3 linked regions of the Homo sapiens genome follow. The protein of the gene in region 2 interacts with the protein of the main gene of each other region in a pairwise test. Each region holds a gene or a part of one and is shown on either strand. Other genes may lie near its edges.

Region 1 (7,025 bases), on a different chromosome or scaffold from region 2:
GAGGGTGGGTGTCGGAAGTGTGAACAAAAGAGAAGTCAAGGATGACTCCAGGAGTTCCGGTCTGAACAGCTAGAAGGGAGGGAGCTGATGATGGGGAAGACCAAGGAGAGGAGTGGGTTTGGGAGATTAATTAAAAGTTGGAACAGTTTGGACAGACAGTAAGGGGGAGAGGAGGATTTGAACCTAGTAATCCTCACTCTAGAGCCCATGCTTTTTAATCACCGCATGAAGTCATTCCAGAAAAGGGGTGGGGTGGGGTAGGTGTTATCCATCAGCTTTGGGATGGAAGCCCCATGAAGGCTGGCCCAAAGATCTCACTACTTACGGTACCCCCGTCCCCCTACCCACCCCCAACAGGAACAGGAATATTACCTGGTGAAATGGCGTGGATATCCAGACTCAGAGAGCACCTGGGAGCCACGGCAGAATCTCAAGTGTGTGCGTATCCTCAAGCAGTTCCACAAGGACTTAGAAAGGGAGCTGCTCCGGCGGCACCACCGGTCAAAGACCCCCCGGCACCTGGACCCAAGCTTGGCCAACTACCTGGTGCAGAAGGCCAAGCAGAGGCGGGCGCTCCGTCGCTGGGAGCAGGAGCTCAATGCCAAGCGCAGCCATCTGGGACGCATCACTGTAGAGAATGAGGTGGACCTGGACGGCCCTCCGCGGGCCTTCGTGTACATCAATGAGTACCGTGTTGGTGAGGGCATCACCCTCAACCAGGTGGCTGTGGGCTGCGAGTGCCAGGACTGTCTGTGGGCACCCACTGGAGGCTGCTGCCCGGGGGCGTCACTGCACAAGTTTGCCTACAATGACCAGGGCCAGGTGCGGCTTCGAGCCGGGCTGCCCATCTACGAGTGCAACTCCCGCTGCCGCTGCGGCTATGACTGCCCAAATCGTGTGGTACAGAAGGGTATCCGATATGACCTCTGCATCTTCCGCACGGATGATGGGCGTGGCTGGGGCGTCCGCACCCTGGAGAAGATTCGCAAGAACAGCTTCGTCATGGAGTACGTGGGAGAGGTAGGGAGATGGGACCCGGTGTGTGTGTGCAGCTCTTCCCACCCTGTGTTCACAGTGTGCACCCGGCTCTCCTCACTGTGTGTCTGAAACTCCCTGCTTTCCCTATGGGAAAGGCCTGGGAGACTGATCTGAGTGTCACAGGGACATTGGGCAGGGGCTAGTATTCCAAGCTGGTACACACCAGCATGGCCATGCTGGTGGTTACAGGAACACCAAAATACTTCTGCACTGGGTTGACTTTATCAGGGTACTTAGCAAAGAAGAAAAGTGGGAGCTGAGATCCAGGCAGCCTTAGCATTCCTTGTAACAGGCCATGTGGTCTGGCATAGGGCTGCATCAGCTGGAAAGGCACTTCCTCTTCTCATTTCACAAGGGCCCATCTTATCACCAAGCAGTATCTGCCTGAGGAGCATTGTTTTACCAGTCTGCACAGAAGGAACGCAGTCTGGAGTAGGATGAGACATGCCTTGGACAAAGGTTGGCTAACTCCTTTAGACTTTCAGGACACTGGGGAAGGCCGAGTGTATTAGGCAAGCCAGCCATTGTAAAAACAACCCCCTCATCTTAGTGACTTTGCACATTACAAGTTTGCTTGCTCATGGAACAGTCCATTGTGGGGGTTTGAGTGGGTATCCTTTCACACAGCAACTGGGACACCTAGGCTCTTTCCCTCCTGTGCCTTTGCTGTGCCTTGAAGCCTTGGAGTCACTACCAGATCCTCAGCATTGCCTGGCAGGCGGGCCAAGTGGGGGATAGAAGGGGCCCATCCTAGTGGGCCAGGCCTAGATGCAGCACCCATCACTTCTGCCCATGCTCCACTGGCTGGAACTGAGTCACTGGCCTTACCTCCATGCAAGAGAGGCAACAGGATGTGCTTTAGCCATGTGCCCAGCTGCACAAGGCTAAAGCACAGCCATAACTAGCAACTAGATAACTAGCAAGTATCTACAACAGAAAAATGTCGCATTCTAAGATGGGATGCAGTTAGCATTTGGGATGAGATGATTTTTCGTTATGTAGAACTGTCTCATGCATTGGGGGACATTTAGCATCCCTGGACCTTGACCATTTAAATCCATGAGTGTGCCCTGTCATAGTGACAACCCCAGATACCTCTATATATAGCCATAGGTCCCTTAGGGGTGTGATATAGTTGGAAAGTGACAGAAACTGGCCTGAGGAACACTCACATGAGGGTGTCCACACTGTAGCACTGATACTGATGACAAGGAGAGGCTCCTACTCTGAGAAACTGTACAGAGGGTCACATCTGACAGGGACAGAGACAATCTTGGGTAGAACAATCTACACCACAGAGGACCCTGACAGTCTGGGCAAGGAGACAGCCACACCCTGTCCAGATAACCCTGCTGGCCTGCTGGAGGAGATGTCTACATGCCACAGGACCTGGCCATCTGGAAGGAGGAGGTGGGGAGGTGTCCACACCCTGAGGGCTCCTGACAGTGGGCGGGGGAAGGAGTCCTGATAATCTGCAGGAAGTCCATGTCCCACAGTGACCCCAGTGACCTGGAGGAAGAGCTTGTGCTCTCCACACTCTAGAGGACCTGGTGGTCTGACTTAGGAAGTGTTCACACCCATGTTGTCATGACAGGAAAAAGAAGTGTCCTCACCCCAGAGGGATCCGGACAGCCTGGAGATCTAGTCTACACCCAAGGGCACCCTGACAGTATCGGGGGAAGTGTCCATGCCCTCAATGTCCTGACGCTCTGGAGGAAGTGTCCAGAGGTTGAAGGAACCCAAACTCTCTGGAGGAGATGTCCAGACCCCATAGGACCCAGACAGTCCACCGTCCTAGGGGCTGCACAGAGCAGGAAGTATCTCAGCCTCACTGTACTGGCATCTGGAGGAAACACTGTCTACCACACAGGGTCCTGACAGTCGAGGAGGAAGACTACACCCCAAGGGCAGCCTCAGACCCTCCTGGGCCTGAGACTTTTCTGGCTGCTCTTCCTTAGTGTCAGTGTCTTTAATCCTCCCAGGGATCCTCTCAGCCCTGTCCTCACCCTTCCTGCTCTCCACACATTCTTGCTGCACTATTTCCTGACCGCCCTCCAGCACCCTCAGACCCATGGGTCCTCCTGATGGTGCCACAGGCCTCCGGAAAGAGCCAAACTCATCTTCCCGCATTCCCCTCTGAAGAGACAGTATAGCAAATGGTTAGGAGGGTGGACTCTGGATCCTGACTGCCCGAGGCTGAATCCCAGCTCCACTACTCATCAGCAATCACTAACCTCTGTGCCTGCATTTACTATGTAAAATGGGAACAATAATAGCACTCACCTCACAGGCTTGTTACAAAAATTAAATGAGTTACTATGTATCAAGCACTTGGAAAAAGCACTTGAACAGTGTTCAGTACACAGTAAGTTTGATACAAATGTTATCAGCATAGTTCAAACTTCAGCAAATCCAAAATGTCTGGAAGACCAAGTTTTTTTGTAACCCATCTGGCTACAGGACCCAGCCTGACCGGATAGGGTCCTATTTGTAGTTTTTATTTATCCTACTTGGGGTAATAGTCATACATTTCGTTGCAGCAGTTCTAATTTACTTGATTCTGTAGTGCCGTCCCAGATGCTGCCAGGGTGTTACGGAATCAAGGGCCTATCTGCACACCATGCTATCTACTGTCCTTCTTCAGCTGGGACATGTACTGACAGTCTGTACCAAGAGCTCCCTCCACGGGAGCTGCCCTTCCCTCCTTTGCAGCCTCCCACATTGGGTCAGAACTTTCACGTTCCTGCAGAACATTCCCATCCTCACCCAAGAGACAATGCCAGCCTATTTTATCCATTCTAAAACATGCATTTTCTTCCTATTTTAACATCTCGGAAATGAAGATGTCTTAATTAAATCATGGTGTATCATTTATAATTAACAGCAGTTTTTCCTTTCTTGGTAAAGGGCACATAAAATTAAGGGTGTGCCTTACATTTATAACTGGTCCTCATAACCACTCCTAACATTGCTCACTCTCCTATCAGAAACAGGAACACCTTTCACGTCCATGATCTTGTATGGATCTTTACAACAGCCCCTGTCAGGTTGGGATTTTGTCACTGTCATTCCCATTCTGCAGATGAGAAAACTGAGGCCCAGAGAGGTAGAATAACTTGATTAAAATCACAAAAGTAGTACAATGGATAAAAAAATAAAGGCCCAAATAATATCTAAAACTGGTACCCTGCCAGGCTGTAGCTTTTTTTTTTTTTTTTTAGCTGAGGAAACAGGCACAGAGAGAACATTCAGGATCCCATATCCAGGAGGGGGCAGAGCAGCAGCTGACTCCAAGTCTTCTAGTTCCCATTCACGTCAGCACCCTCTCGGAACTGCCAGCTTACAGCCTGTCTTTTCCATTCATTCTGGAGAGCTGTTAGGGAGCAGAGACAGGCCCATCTGTTCCCAAGCTTTCAGGGTTGACCAATCATTAGAGAATGGGACTGAAAAGAAGATGAGAAGGAACCAAGAAGTGTTTGTGCCCTGGAGGGCCTGCAGTATGACTCACTCCTGGTGAGACTGGGAGAGCAGGTAGTGGCAGAATAGGCATGAAGATGGAGACTAGGAAGGATGTGGGCACTCCTCCTGGCTCAAGGAGGGCCTACGGTGAAAAAGATGGCTCATACCCCACCCACTAGGCCTGTGAGCCTGGGAGAGGCTGCCCTTTGATCCCAGGACTTGATCAGACAAGTGGCCAGCTTCTGAGGTAGGGGAGGAACGGGAAGCTTGGAAGGCTGCCTAGAGAGGTCCCATCTGTTTGAGCTGATGCCACAAGGAAGACTGTTCTCCAGGAGGTGAAGGGAGACTGATCTTGACATATTCCACCCTCATGTTGTGGCCCTTAGGAGAGAGTCCCCACTCTTCCACCAGGTGGTAAAGCCCTTTTATGATCTGCAACTCGTTTTAGAGAATCCGTCTCTTCTCCATTCCCCCTCAAGCCCTAAGCACTGTTTCCTGATCACAGTCTTACACTGTGGGTGTGTGAATCTGTCTCTCTGTGACCAGACTTTGACCCCTTGAGGGCAGGGACCAATCCTGGTTCCTGTGTATCCCCTACCCACCTGTGACCCCTGAGAGTGGACCGGGCCTGGTCCCTGTGTCTCCCTGATCAGACCGTGAGCCCTGCATGCTGGGACTGGGCACAAGGAAGGCCTCAATAAAAACCCTGGCAAGGGAGCCAGGTTCCTCAAGGAACAGAACTGGAGCACGGGGCAGTGGGTAGTGTGGCCCGAGGCAGGGTAAATCTTGGTTTCCTCAAGGCATTGTTAGTCAGCCTTTGGCATGGAACACAGCCTTGAGGGGACAGCCAGGGAGAACACCAGTGTGGCCATCCTAGCTAAGGAGATGGATTCCCAAGTCAGAAGGGCATGGTCACCGGCCCACATGAGGGTGAGCAAGGAAGGAAGCCCGAGAGGGGTCTCTGGAGAAGGGAGGGGAAGGAAGAAGTGTGGCGGGGGAGTACTGGAGCTACCTGGAGGGCCGCCACTTGGACAGAGGACAGGCTGCTAAGCCAGGAAGCAGAATCAAAGTAAACAGCAGTCCCCATGTGTCTCCTGTGTGCTGTGCACTGTTCTTGGCTGAGGTACAGTGGGACCCCTACCCAGGGAAGGGCCTGGTCAGCTACGCTTGGGGATTGGCAGGAGGCTGCCGTTGCTGGCCTCAGGGAAGAGGGGCCATGGGGCCGGAGATTTGTTGGCGTGGATTGGGAGGCAAGGACAGGCTGGGGCTAGGATGGCAGCAAAGCTTCCCATTTCCTAGGACAGGTAGGGAACCAGCTGGGGAGGAGGCACCCACTGCCGTCTGAAGCACCAGTTGGCACTGCGCAGCCCTGGGCCGAGGGAGAGCTTCTCTCACTGTGCTCTCCCTTCATCTTTCCTCCTCCTCTGCTGCTGTCTCTGAAGTGTGTGGCCTCAGCCTCTTTCTGGCTCTCTGAACCTGGGCCTCCCTCTGCCTCTGCCTCCACCTCTCTTGTCTTGAGGCCCTTGCCCCCTTTCCCCATGGCCTGGGTCTCTTCTTCCCCTCTCTCCACGCCCTCCCTGCTGGGTCCTGCATGGGCTCAGGCTCCCTTGCCTGGATCAGTAAGTATCTCTCCCTGTGGCACCCTGGGTCACTTTCTTTCTTGCCCTTGCTTTGGTCTCTCCTGATCACCTTCCTGCTCCGTCCCAAGGCACTGGAGGCTCCAGGGGTTCTTGGGCAGCTCTTGCTGGGTGGCGGCAGGAGGTGCTCGCGTGGCCCCAGTTGGGCCCTGCAGCCAGGCCAGCCTGCACTCACCGCCAGGGACTCCTCCTGCTAGCCAGAGGCCTGAGGCGGGCCAGGCAGTTGCCAGCTGAGGCCCAGCTCCTCAGGAAGGGCCGACAGACTCTCTGCGTCACTGCCCATGTGTGTCCACGGGCAGGGGTGCCTCCTGCTCCCTGTCCTTCAGAAGTCAGGAGCAGTGCCGGCTTTCCTGAGACTTCGCGGCCAATCTCCCCTTACCCATGGCCCTTTCCCTAGATCATTACCTCAGAGGAGGCAGAGCGGCGGGGCCAGATCTACGACCGTCAGGGCGCCACCTACCTCTTTGACCTGGACTACGTGGAGGACGTGTACACCGTGGATGCCGCCTACTATGGCAACATCTCCCACTTTGTCAACCACAGTGTGGGTACCCCCGGCAGGCGGGCAAGGGGTCGAGAGGGGCAGGCTGGAGCCCCTCCTCACTCTCCCAACTGTTCTTTCTCGCCCAGTGTGACCCCAACCTGCAGGTGTACAACGTCTTCATAGACAACCTTGACGAGCGGCTGCCCCGCATCGCTTTCTTTGCCACAAGAACCATCCGGGCAGGCGAGGAGCTCACCTTTGATTACAACATGCAAGGTGGGGGTGGCAAGGGACTGGGGGCAGGGGCGCACTGTGACTTGGGACACAAGGACCCCTCCCAAAGGCACACCAGTCACTCAGAGAACCAAGGAAAATTCTTTAGCGGGAGCTTTAAGATGCTCTTCCTG
Region 2 (7,025 bases):
TATCTTTATGGGAAGATATAGGAGGAGACATCTCGTTATATGTTGCAAAACCCAGAACTGAAAAGATGTCATTTCTCCCCAAATTCATCCAAGATTTGACGTAGTCCCAATCAAAACCCCAACAGTGTGAGACTCACAAGCTAATGCTCCACTTATATGGAAACACAAAAGGCCAAGAACACTAGGGATAAGCCTGAAAGAGAACAAATTTGAAGTACTTACACTATTAGATGTCAAGACTTATTATATACAGTTTGGTAAGTAAGACCTAAGTTACTGGCTTAGGCATAGAGAAATAAACCAATGGAATACGGTTGAGTCCAGAAAATTGCCAGATGAGGCAGCTCACACCTGCAATCCCAGCAATTTGGGAGGCCGAGGCAGGAGGATCACTTGAGCCCAGGGATTCAAGGCCAGCCTAGGCAAAACAGGGAGACTCTCATCTCTACAAAATTTAAAAAATTAGCCAGGCATGGTGGTGCACCCCTGCAGTTCCAGCTACTTGGGAGGCTGAGGTGGGAAGATCACTTGAGCCTGGGAGGCAGAGGTTGCAGTGAGCCGAAATCAACACTGCACTCCAGCCTGGGGGACAGAGAAAGACTCTGTCTCTGACTGTTTTGTTTTGTCCCCAAAACAAAACAGAAATAAACCTACACATGTGTAGACATGCAATTTATGACACTGCTGGGAGTGGAAAAGCCTTCAATAAATGGTGCTGGGGCCAGGCGCAGTGACTTACGCCTGTAATCCCAGCACTTCGGGAGGCTGAGGGGGAAGGATTGCTTGAGATCAGGAGTTCGAGACCAACAGGGTGAAACCCCGTCTCTACTAGAAATACAAAAAATTAGCCGGTTGTGGTGCCACACACCTGTAGTCCCAGCTACTCTGAAGGCTGAGGTAGGAGAATCGCTTGAATCTGGGAGGTGGAGGTTGCAGTGAGCCGAGATCACACCACTGCACTCCAGACTGGGTGACAGAAAATAATCAAAAAACAAAAAAACAGAAGAAAAGAAAAGAATCTTGACCCCCACCCCAGGTGAAATGCAAATCTAACGTAAAGGTAAAATAATAGCACTTCTACAGAGTGGTGACACCAAAAGCAAAAGCACAGTCTATAAAACGGAAAACGGAAAAACTGGACCTTGACAAGATTAAAAACTTTTGCCTTGCTAAAAACCCTGAGAGGAGGATGAAAAGACAGCTACTGAGTGAGTAAATATCCACAGACCACACACAGAACAAAGGACTGCTGTCAAGAACACACGAGTCTCAAAAAATCAGCAGTAAAAATGAAACGATCCAATTAGAAAATGGGCAGAGGATGCAAAGACACACCTCACTGAAGAGGATACACAGATGGCAAATGCGTCCGTGACAAGATGCTCAACATCACCCGCCATTCGTAAAATGCAAATTAGAGCCACAGCGAGATACCGCTGCCCACGAATCCAAACGGCAAGGATGTGAGGACAAAGGAATCTCACAGGAGCTGATGAAAACCTGTGAAATAAAACAGCCACCACTCTGGAGAGCAGTGTGGAAGTTTCTTAAACCAAAACAGCTCAACATGCAACTCCCAAACCACCCAGCAGCTGCGCTCACGGGCCTTTATCCCAGAGAAATGAAAATTTAAGTCAGGCGTGGTGGCTCACGCCTGTAATCCCAGCACTTTCGGAGGCTGGGGCAGGCGGGATCACATGAGGTCAGGAGTTCAAGACCAGCCTGGCTAACATGGCAAAACCCCATCTGTACTACAAATACAAAAATTAGCCAGGTGTGGTGGCGCGAGATCACACCACTGCACTCCAACCTGGCAACAGTGTGAGGCTCTGTCTCAAAAAATAAAAAAAATTAAGTCACACAAAAAACTACATAAATGTTCATGGCAACTTTATTCATAATAGCAAAAAACTGGGGGAAAAAACCAAATGTCTTGTAACAGGTGAAACATGATGGTCCGTCCATCCATACCATAGACGTTTCCTCCAGTCAAAGGAACACACTAGTAGTGCACACAACTGGATGGACCTCAGGACATCACGCCGACCTCAACGCCCACACCCTGCAGCACTCCATTTATGGAGCATTCTCGTAATGGTGAAACCATACAGATGGAGAACATACCAGTGGCTCTCAGGGGTTCAGGCTGGGAAAGGGAGGTGGCTGTGGCTGCAAGAGGGCAGCTCAAGAGGTCCCTATGGTGGCTGTGCTGCATCTTGGCCATGGGCTCACACAAACCCTACAGTGACAGATGCGCAGAACTAAACCACACACACACAGGTAGACACATGGAAAGCTGTGAAATCTGAATAAGGTCAATGGAGCACATTGGTGTCAACATCCCCTTGAACTGCTGTACTCCATTGACAGGTGCAACGTTACCACATGGGTACCCGGGAAGTCTACAAGGGATCTCTGAGCCATCTCTTTTCTTTTTTTATTTATTTTTCTTTATCTATTGTTTTTTTTTTTCCCGAGATGGAGTGTTGCTCTGTTGCCCGGGCTGCAGTGCAGTGGCGCAATCTCAGCTCACTGCAAGCTCTACCTCCTGGGTTCGTGCCATTCTCCTGCCTCAGCCTCCCGGGTAGCTGGGATTACAGGTGTGTGCCACCACGCCTGGCTAATTTTTTGTATTTTCAGTAGAGACACGGTTTCACCATGTCGGCCAGGCTATTCTTGAACTCCTGACCTCAAGTGATCCACCCACCTTGGCCTCCCAAAGTGCTAGAATTACAGGCATGAGCCACTGCGCCTGGCCTTTTTTTTTTTTTTTTTTTTTTTTTTTTGAGATTCTATTCTTTTTTACTGGTTCTTTTGTCAATCCTTGAGCCTGTCCCACATGTCCTCCTCACTATGGCTTCCTAAGGAGCCTCCTCTCTGGTCCCACCTCTGAGGGGGCTGACTCCTACTCACACTCTGGTCTCAGCCTCCTTTCTGGCCCCTGGCATGAGATTCTTCATTCTGCCTCGGCCTCCCGAAGTGCTGGGATGACAGGCGTGAGCCACGCACCCGGCCTCTTTCCCAGTGATCTCAGTGCTCCTCAGATTCCCCCTGCATAACACCCAGCAGCAGAACCATATGAAATTGAAACTATTCCACTATTTTTTATCTACAAACACAAATCATTATTTACCTCAGTAACAGCTGCCTGGCTAAAGCCCTGTGAGGGAGGGAAGACCCCGTGATTTGGACATTTGCACACATCATGCTTCCAGCCCGGGACAGGAGATACGCGTGGACCACACCAGGGACTGGCCCGCTAACCATGAGCTCTCACGCAATGTCTGTCAGGGGCTGGAGAATTGGGGAAGCCTCTCCCCAGAAACCAGGGGAAGCGTTGCATCTCCCTCTTCAATTTCCTTTCCCCTTGCCACCTGGCTTCAAAATAAATCGAATAAACTAACTCACAGCAAGGTGTCAAAGGCCCAGATGCCTAAATGAAAGAAGCTGGCAGCCTGAGGCATCTGCATTTGAAAAGAGACTCAACGAGAACTGAAGATAAAAGCCAGCCCTAGACCAAAAGAAAGGGAAGAGAGGGCAGGGAGGGCTCCTAGCAGCCCCTGCAAATCACACCTTTCTAGAAGCCAGGGCCACAAGCAGCCTTCCCTATGAACTGCCTCATTCAGCCTCATAGCTCTAATGGGCCATAACCCCCACGGAGTAGATGTGGCAACTAAGGTCTGTCAAGTACAATGGTGAGGAAACCAAAATCACAAAAGTGAGCTTCAGAGGGGTCGGCGCTGTAACCCAGGATTTGCTCTGACTCGGTATTCACTTCCTCACAGAGACACAGACCTTTCGGTCTAGGTGGGGCTGTGGGAAGGGGACCTGCGGACAGACGTGCCAGTGGCACAGGGCCTGGGAGTGTGGAAGGAGGCAGCACTGGGACCGTGAGGGTCCCCAGCCTTAGGACAACAGAGGTGTGGGGTCTAGACAACCAACCTAGGGCGCAGGTGACACAGTAAGCCACTGAGATGCCTGTGAGCCTGGGACAGGAGCTGGAAAGGCATTTCCAAGAAAGAGAGCTCACAGTCAGCCAGCACATTCCTAGAAGTTGGAAGGAAAGATGGTAGGAGCTGTCAGAGCAGAGAGATGAGCAGGGGAAGGTGGCCAAGGAAAAAGAAAACAGGGAAGGGCTGGGCATGGTGGCTCACGCCTATAATCCCAACATATGGGAGGCCAAAGCAGGAGGATTGCTTGAACCCAGGAGTTTGAGGCTGCAGTGATCTCTAATCACACCACTGCTCTCCAGCCTGGGCAACAGAGCAAGACTCTGTCTCAAAAAAAAAAAGAGACCGGGCGCAGTGGCTCATGCCTGTAATCCCAGCACTTTGGGAGGCCAAGGCGGGTGGATCACCTGAGGTCAAGAGTTCGAGACCAGCCTGACCAACAGGGTAAAACCCCATTTCTACTAAAAATACAAAAGCCGGTCGTGGCGGCATGCACCTGTAGTCTCAGCTACTCAGGAAGCTGAGGCACGAGAATCACTTGAATCCAGGAGGCAGAGGTTGCAGTGAGCCAAGATGGTGCCACTGCACTCCAGCCTGGGCGACAGAGCAAGACTTCGTCTCAAAAATAAATGAATAAATAAAAAGAAATAAAGAAAACAGAACGACACAACACATAGGATGACAAAGTTCAAAAAATTCACGTGATGAAGGAGACTGATGATGCATGAAACAGGAGGAAAGCCTTTGAACTTGAAGCCAGCCAAGAACATCATTTGTAGGAGGCAGGAATTGGGACACTGGACCCACAGATGAGGAAACCTACTTTACACACACTGCCTGGTTCTGTAGATAGAAAGACTGACATGTGAACATCGTTACAGAACAGAACGTAACTCTGTCAGCCACACAACATAAAAAAGAAGGCATATCCTACTTCTGGGTACATACGCAAAAGAAATGAAAGTTGGGCCGGGCGCGGTGGCTCACACCTGTAATTCCAGCACTTTGGGAGTTGAGGGGGGCGGATCACCTGAGGTCAGGAGTTCAAGACCAGCCTGGCCAAAATGGCAAAAACCCGTCTCTACTAAAAATACAAAAAAATAAGCCGGGCGCGGTGGCTCACGCCTGTAATCCCAGCACTTTGGGAGGCTGAGGCGGGTGGACCATGAGGTCAGGAGCTCAAGACCATCCTGGCCAACATGGTGAAACCCGTCTCTACTAAAATTACAAAAATCAGCTGGACGTGGTGGCGGGCGCCTGTAGTCCCAGCTACTCGGGAGGCTGAGGCAGGAGAATCGCTTGAACCCAGGAGGCAGAGGTTGCAGTGAGCCTAGATCACTGCACTCTAGCCTGGCGATAGAGTGAGACTGTCCCAAAAAAAAAAAAAAAAAAAGTTAGCTGGGCATGCTGGCATGTGCCTGTAGTCCCAGCTACTCGGGAGGTTGAGGCAGGGAGAACTGCTTAAACCCGGGAGGTTGAGGCAGGGAGAAATGCTTAAACCCGGGAGGTTGAGGCAGGGAGAACTGCTTAAACCCGGGAGGTTGAGGCAGGGAGAACTGCTTAAACCCAGGAGGTGGAGGTTGCAGTGAGCCAAGATTGTGCCACTGCACTCCAGCCTGAGCAACAGAGCAAGACTCCATCTCAAAAATAAGTAAATAAAAATAAAATAAAAAATAAGAAAACTATAAACTGGCCAGGAGCGGTGGCTCATGCCTATAATCCCAGCACTTTGGGAGGCTGAGGCAGGCAGATCACTTCAGGTAGTCTGGCCAACATGGAGAAACCCCGTCTCTACTAAAAATACAAAAATTAGCTGGGTGTGGTGGTACATGCCTACAGTCCCAGCTACTTGGGAGGCTGAGGCAGAAGAATCGCTTGAACCCGGGAGGCCAAGGCTGCAATGAGCCGAGATGACACCACTGCACTTGGCAAGACTCCATCTCAAAAAAAAAGGCGGCGGCGGCGGCGGCGGCAGCCGGGCACAGTGGCTCACACTGGTAATCCCAGCACTTTGGGAGGCCAAGGCGGGCGGATACGAGGTCAGGAGTTCGAGACCAGCCTGGCCAGCATGGTGAAACCCTGTCTCTACTAAAAATACAAAAAATTAGCAGGGCATGGTGGCAGGCGCCTGTAGTCCCAGCTACTCAGAAGGCTGAGGCAGGAGAATTGCTTGAACCTGGCAGGCGGAGGATGCGGTGAGCCAAGATCGTGCCACTGCACTCCCGCCTGGGCAACAGAGCAAGACTCTGTCTCAAAAAAACAAAAAAGAAAAAAGAAAAAGGGAATCAACTACGGATACACAAAACCACTTGAATCTCTAAAACATTGTCATCTGGCAAAATAAATCAGACACAAAAGTATTCATTCCATATGATTCCATTGATGTGAAATTATTTTATTTTTTGAGATGGAGTTTCGCTCTTTTTGCCCAGGCTAGAGTGCAATGGTGCGATCTCGGCTCACCGCAACCTCCGCCTCCCACGTTCAAGGGATTCTCCTACCTCAGCCTCCCGAGTAGCTGGAATTACAGGCATGCGCCACCATGCCTGGCTAACTTTTTGTATTTTTAGTAGAGACAGGGTTTCTCCATGGTGGTCAGGCTGGTCTCGAACTCCCAACCTCAGATGATCCACCCGCCTCAGCCTCCCAAAGTGCTGGGATTACAGGCGTGAGCCCCCACGCCCAGCCAATGTGAAATTCTTAAAAAGGGACGCCAAACCTACAGTAATAGAAAGCGATCACTATTGCCTGGGCTGGGTGTGAGGAAGGGCTTACCACAGAGGAGCACGAGAGAACTTTTGGGGGCAACGGAAATGTTTTATATTTGGATTATGACGTTGTTCACAAAACCCATCAAACAGGCCGGGCGCGGTGGTCACGCCTGTAATCCCAGCACTTTGGGAGGCCGAGGCGGGCGGATCACGAGGTCAGGAGATCGAGACCATCCTGGCTAACATGGTGAAACCCCGACTCTACTAAAAAAATACAAAAAATTAGCCGGGCGTGGTGGTGGGCGCCTGTAGTCCCAGCTACTTGGGAGGCTGAGGCAGGAGAATGGTGTGAACCCAGGAGGCG
Region 3 (5,867 bases), on a different chromosome or scaffold from region 2:
GACTTCTCCCGCAGCACCCAGGTAGGAGGCAAGGGCTGGCCCAGGCCCATCCTCACGCCATGCCCCAGCTCATGGCTTACATCCCCATGCCAGGCAGAGCTGGAACGGGAGCGGGCACAGCTGCTGGTCCGGGCCACGATGGCTGAAGAGCAACTTTCTGAGCTACAGGAGTACGTGGACCAGCACCTGGGCAGGTGGGCAGAGGGAGCTGGGTGTGACCCCAGGGCCCTGGTCTGGTTGGAATGAAGGATGATGGCTGCCTCAGGCGCTAAAAGCAGACCTGTCCACAGCTGGGCAAGTCACTTAAGCATGGTTCCTCTGAGCAGGTACAAGCACGAAATCCTGAGGCTGAGGAAGCTGGCAGGTGCAGGGGACCCCTGGAAAGTGGGGGCTGTGCCTCCAGCCAAGCCCCAGCATCCAAGGACCGGCAGCCACTAGGCCGTCTCCCAAGGAGCAGAGCAGAGCAGAGCTCCTCAGCCAGCACAGAACCCTCCCACCCAGCCCCCCATAAAACATGAGTCAGGATAGAACCCACAGAGTCTTTATCGTGTCTAATACTCAGCTGGCCTGAGAAATAAGGCCCCCCGGGATGGGGGCAGAACTAGGTCCGGGGGCAGCCTGGATGGGTATCCGCGAGGAGGCGGCCTCCCCAGCCTGCCCACCCTCAGGAACATCATAAGCCCATACTCGGTCCAGGCCCTCGCCAACCGCGGTCACAGGCTGCCAGGTGGGGAGTGGGAAGCGCCCAGACACCACGCGGGCCCCAGCAGGCAGCTCTGTCCGCAGCTTGTCCTCCAGCAGCGGGAGCTGAGGGAGAGAACAGCAGAGTAGAGGGGGCGGGGGCGGGGCCGGTAGAAAACAGCCGCGCTCACCCCCCTAGCCCCAAGCCTAGCACCCACCAGGCAGGCCCAGGCCTCAGAGCAGCAAACACCCTGGGGTGTGGCTGGGGCTTCCCAGCGGGGCTGGCAACCCCGCACCTACCACGCTAGGGGCCAGGAACACAGACACGTTGCGGCAGTCCCTCAGGCTCACCTGCCGGAAGAGAAGTCGCCCCGGCCGGGGAGAGGCCTGGTGGGCACCGGGTCATCGCAGCTTCCGAGTCCCGGCCCCCAGCCCTCGCAGGTGTCAGCCGCACCTTGGGCTGTCAGCGGGTGGCCAGGGATCCCCAGGTTACCTTCCAGAGATCCTTGCGGCGATAGCAGACGCTGCCGGCACAGCCGGCCCTCCAGGCGTGCAGCCGCGCCAGCGCCACCAGCCAGGGGTTCAGCTCGTAGCCCACGGCCGGGCGGAGGCCGCACCTGTGGGCCGCCAGCACCTGTGGGCACCGAGAGTGTGGGAACCAGGATGTGGGCAGGGGCGCCCGCCAGCAGGTGGGCGGTGTGGGGCGGCGAAGACCCAGACGCAGGCACTTACGATCCTGCCGTCGCCAGAGCCCAGATCCACCGTTTTTCCGGGGCGTCCTCGCAGCAGCGACAACACGTGCTCCACCTGCCGCGCGCTCGCGCCGACGTAGGGCACCTGGACCGGGTGGCGGCGAGAGTCCACTGGCCGCTCCCGCCCCGCCCGCAGCCCGGCCCGAACTACCACACGGCGGGGCGGAGCTCACCCCGGCCACGCCCAGACCTTGAGACCCTGAGCGGCAGCCGAGCTCCCCTGCCCGGCCTGGCCCCGCCCCGCACCTGCAGCCGCAGCGGCACGCGCCGGAAGCCGGGCTGGAGCAGCAGCGCCCACACCGCGTAGGCTGCCAAGCCCGAGCCGGCCGCCGCCTGCAGCAGCTCCAGCGCGCCCAGCCGCCGCTCGCGCAGCTCCGTCAGCGCCTCGACCGGGTCGTCCTGCTCCATGGCTGCGGGACGCGCGGCTCGTCCGCCCAAGGTCCTTCCCGGCTCGGGTCCGCGGCCCTCGCAGCCTGGCCTGGGGCTGGCGGTGTGCCCTCTGCCTCCTGCCGGGAGCCGCCGCGCGACACCGGAAGTGGCCGGCAGAGCCTGCGCGGTCGGTCCGTGGCGCTGTGCGCTCCGCCCAGCCCGGCTGCCCTCCCGCGGGTTCCGGCGAGCTGCAGCCTCGGGGGCTCTGCCCCGCCGCGTCCGGCTCCAAGCCTGCGAGGGTCGGCTCCGTTGGTCCGCTCTGCGGACCGCCGTTTGCGGCCTGTGCTGGCTGCTGGCGACCCGCGGAAGGGGACAGGCAGGCCCTGCCCTGGGGGAGCGCACGTGCCGGCGGGAGTCGGGATACACCCGGCGATCTCACGGGCTAGAGCCCCAGGGAAACGGGGCTGCGCGTCTTTGTCGTGGAATGAAGGGAAGTCTGCCTTGGAGAGGGGCGGTCCTGGCCCCAGAACCAGCCGGGGGCTCGCGTGGGGCGGCTGGAGCCCAGGGAGCCGGTGGGAAAGCGGCTCCCCGGGATGAGACAGCGTCCAGGCGCCAGCACCCCCATGACTCTGCCTCGGGGAGACTGCTGGGGGCGCTCCGCTGACTCGGACACCCAGCGCCAGCCAGAGCCCGGGAGGACATCCTTCCATTTCCCTCCTACAGCCTGAGCGATGAGCCCCAGTGGGCGGTGAAGGGATGGGGGGTGGGGTCTGAGGGAGAAGGGCATGGAGGAGGGGCTGACACGGAGGAGAGCTTGAGCAGGCCCAAGAAGACAGATGCTGGCTCTCAGGCGAGTGTGGTGGGAGGAAAGCCGGATGTCACAGGCGGGGGCCTCTGGCACCTGCCAGCTACAGGGAAGGCAGACAGCCCCGGGAGTGGGGAGATCACCTTCCTTCTCCAGAAAACAACACACAAAAAGACTGAGTTCCTGGAGGTGACCTTGTGAAGCTGGGGGTGGGAAGCGCAAGTGGAAGAGCCGAGCTCTGGGTCAGGCAGCTGGGCCACGACCTCCACACCCAGGGTAGGGCTGAACACCCGTGAATGTCGGGGGTTGTCTATGCGTGCCCTGGCCTAGCTCCTCCTTAGCCATCCGTGGCTGGGGTCTAGAGCCCCTGCAGGGACAGAGGCTGCTTCCAGACATGGGTATGCCGCAGACCACAGCCCCCAGCTCCCAAGTGCAGAGTCTCACAGGCCTGCCCACGTTGGCCCCAGCCCCACCCAGCTCAGCGTGTCCTGTCTCCTGGGGGCCTGGAACGGCCCTCCCAGGAAAGGAAGGGTGTATGTACACTGAGCTCTAGGGGGAGCTGACAGCGCCCATTCCTGTCCTGCTGCCTGCATTATTCCCTGCACCTAGAGCAGTTACCTAGGAGGCTTACTGGATGAATGCACCTAATTGGACTCTAGCGTGCACTCTCCACTCTTCTTTTTTTTTTTTTTTTTTTTTTTTTTTTTTTTTTGAGACTTGAGTCTCGCTCTTTCGCCCAGGTTGGAGTGCAGTGGCGCAGTCTTGGCTCACTGCAACCTCTGCCTTCCAGGTTCAAGTGATTCCTCTGCCTCAGCCTTTTGAGTAGCTGGGATTACAGATGCATGCCACCATGTCTGGCTAATTTTTTGTGTTTTATTAGAGACGGTTTCACCATGTTGGCCAGGATGGTCTCCATCTCCTGACCTCATGATCTGCTTGCCTGGGCCTCCCAAAGTGTTGGGATTACAGGCGTGAGCCACTGCGCCCAACCTCCCCACTCCTCTCCCGTCCACACCAGGCACTCTGCTGCTTGGCCTTTGGGCACTCTGCAGCCACCTGTACCTGTGTGAACTGGCACTTGCCTGGCGGTGTCTGTGATCCACAGGCCCCAGGCTCCTGTAGCTCCTGCCCACCTGCTCACCCACACTGTCTCCCTATCTCCCATGCCACTTTGGCCACCTGTCCCCAGGGCAGGCATGAAGCCCCTGGTCTAATGCTCCAAGACCCATTTGGGCACCGTGGTGCTCCTGTGGCCCTGTGTCTCATGAGAAGACAGCTGGTTGCAAAGCCAGGGCTTTCTCTGGGAGGGTCTGTAGGTGCAAGGCTCAGGCACTTCCTGAGACAGGTAGGTAGAAGCCAGGGTTCGGCCAGGGCCCAGCCCAGGGTGTTTGTGAACAGGTGGACTTGGGTGTGGCTGAAAAGGAGAGGTTGTAGGAAGCTGGCCAGAGAATCAGGGCAAGTGCCAAAGGTAAGGGGGTTGCTCGGCCCACGGGAAAGCCTCTCCAAGACAGGAGTGGAGGAGGCGGTGCAGGAGGGCACACGGGCTACCTCCTTTTCTAGTGTTTGCAGAAGTGTTTGGGCTGGGGGCAGATGGATGTAAGGCTATGGGCCCCAGGGAGTGGTCAGGGCTGAAGATGAAAAAGTGGAGGTTGTCCAAGGGTTATTGGAGGCTGCCCCAGAGGAGCGGTCCTGTGCCTGAGCCCTCAGCGTGCCACAGTTGGGAGAGGAGAGAAGCAGCAAGGAACCTGAGGAGGGGCAGAAGGTGGGAGAACCCCCACAGTGCATGACACCCAGTGGCTGCGCTCCTCACCCATCCTCATCAGCCCTGCGGCAGGCAGGTGATCTGTGTGAAAGGGTAAGTCTCTTGCACGTGCAGTGGAAGTCCCAGGGCGGCGCTGGAGGTGACCCCCCTCCCCAGGTGTCCACAGAGGGCATGGCACTCATCAGGCATCTGCATCCGCTAACCTAGAGAAAGGACCGTGTTTGTGGGCCCTGCACAGCTGTGTCCCTCACACAGCCTCAGTTTCCCCCTTGAAAGCTGGGGGCTTCATCTGCCTGGGCAGGGCCTCTGGCCTCCACCCCCACCCCGGCCCAGGCGAGAATGGAAAGCCATTTCTGGGGCTCAGCCCAGGGGTCCCTGGCCCTTGAGCCATGGCTGTCTCTTTCCCAGGATCCGAGGGGTTGGGGTGAGAGGAGGCAGCTCACACAGGGCCAGGTGTCCTGGAACACCCCCACCCAGGGGCTTTTAGCCTCGGAGCCTTGGGCTGTGGCTGTCCCAAACCTCACTGGCCCTTTATGCGGCTGAAAGGCCGAGGAGGAAGGCGGAGACAGTGACAATGGGGCCAGTGGCGGGAAACGGTCCTTAGAGACCCCATTGTGCACCCCGCCCGCCGGAAACAGGCAACAAGCAGGACCCTGCAGAGGGGACCCCACACCCTTCGGGCTCCTCGCCACGTCTGGATGCTCAGCACGTCGAAGGGGCCTGAGGACAGAGGGGCCCATTCTTCCCCAAGGGCGGGACGGGGCCAAGGATGACTCTGCGGGCTCACAGCAGCCATGGGGGAAGTCGGCACCCTGCCAGCCTGCAGCCCCTTCCCTCACAGGCCTGGCTCAGAGCCGGAGCGCTGTGCGCCCGCCTGCCCCCACCGTACCCGAGGGACCCTATGCCCCTCTGCCCCTTTCCTCTCCTGCTGAGCCCCAGAAGCACCTGGCACGGGAGGCAAGTGGGAGCCAGCCAGGGAAGCAGGCAAGGGTGCGGGCAAGGACGGGGCTGGTGGGTGCAGCAGAGCAGAAGCTTGCATGAGTGCAGGTCCCCACGTGCCCCCCACCCAGCAGCGGCCCCTCCCCGGAATGTGGGTGTAGCTCCTCCTGACATCTGCTCTCCCTCTCAGTTGCCAAATGGTCTTGAACAAGATACCATTCCCCTGAGCCTCAGTCTCCCGCCAGGAGGCAGGAATTGGAGCCATCCTCACAGCTGCGAGGCAGGCCCAAGGCTGGGCTGGACACAGGAGACCAGGTCCACAGCAGCTTGCGTGAACAGAGTTCTTATTGATAGTCCCATCACCTCCAAAGCAGTGGGCCCACCCTCCCTCCTACCAGCCCCTCCCCAGCACCCAGCCCCTCAGTGCAGCGCCACCTCGCAGGGGTGGAGGTGGGCAGCACGGGCAGCCTCGTAGGCACGGCGGAACTCCTGGAATCGTGGGGCACAGCCCAGCCGGGCCTCCCCAAAGCGGCTCCAGCCCATGAAGAGGAAGGTGCCT

Evidence for each region.
Region 1: the proteins of PPP1R16A (region 2) and SUV39H1 interact in binary tests that used the Homo sapiens proteins (3 or more experiments, as listed by UniProt).
Region 3: the proteins of PPP1R16A (region 2) and ANTKMT interact in binary tests that used the Homo sapiens proteins (3 or more experiments, as listed by UniProt).

Annotation. Positions count from the first base shown.
Region 1 is NC_000023.11:48,699,734-48,706,758, forward strand, and holds part of SUV39H1 (histone-lysine N-methyltransferase SUV39H1), read left to right. Parts: intron 1-357; coding exon 358-1,020; intron 1,021-6,531; coding exon 6,532-6,678; intron 6,679-6,764; coding exon 6,765-6,894; intron 6,895-7,025. UniProt on the Homo sapiens protein: Histone methyltransferase that specifically trimethylates 'Lys-9' of histone H3 using monomethylated H3 'Lys-9' as substrate. Also weakly methylates histone H1 (in vitro).
Region 2 is NC_000008.11:144,480,974-144,487,998, reverse strand, and holds part of PPP1R16A (protein phosphatase 1 regulatory subunit 16A), read right to left. Parts: intron 1-7,025. UniProt on the Homo sapiens protein: Inhibits protein phosphatase 1 activity toward phosphorylase, myosin light chain and myosin substrates.
Region 3 is NC_000016.10:717,249-723,115, reverse strand, and holds ANTKMT (adenine nucleotide translocase lysine N-methyltransferase), read right to left. Parts: upstream 1,971-5,867; 5' UTR 1,842-1,970; coding exon 1,680-1,841; intron 1,519-1,679; coding exon 1,414-1,518; intron 1,316-1,413; coding exon 1,175-1,315; intron 1,033-1,174; coding exon 982-1,032; intron 808-981; coding exon 559-807; 3' UTR 526-558; downstream 1-525. Other genes in the region: CCDC78 (coiled-coil domain-containing protein 78), read left to right, coding at 1-194, 327-438; METRN (meteorin precursor), read right to left, coding at 5,729-5,867.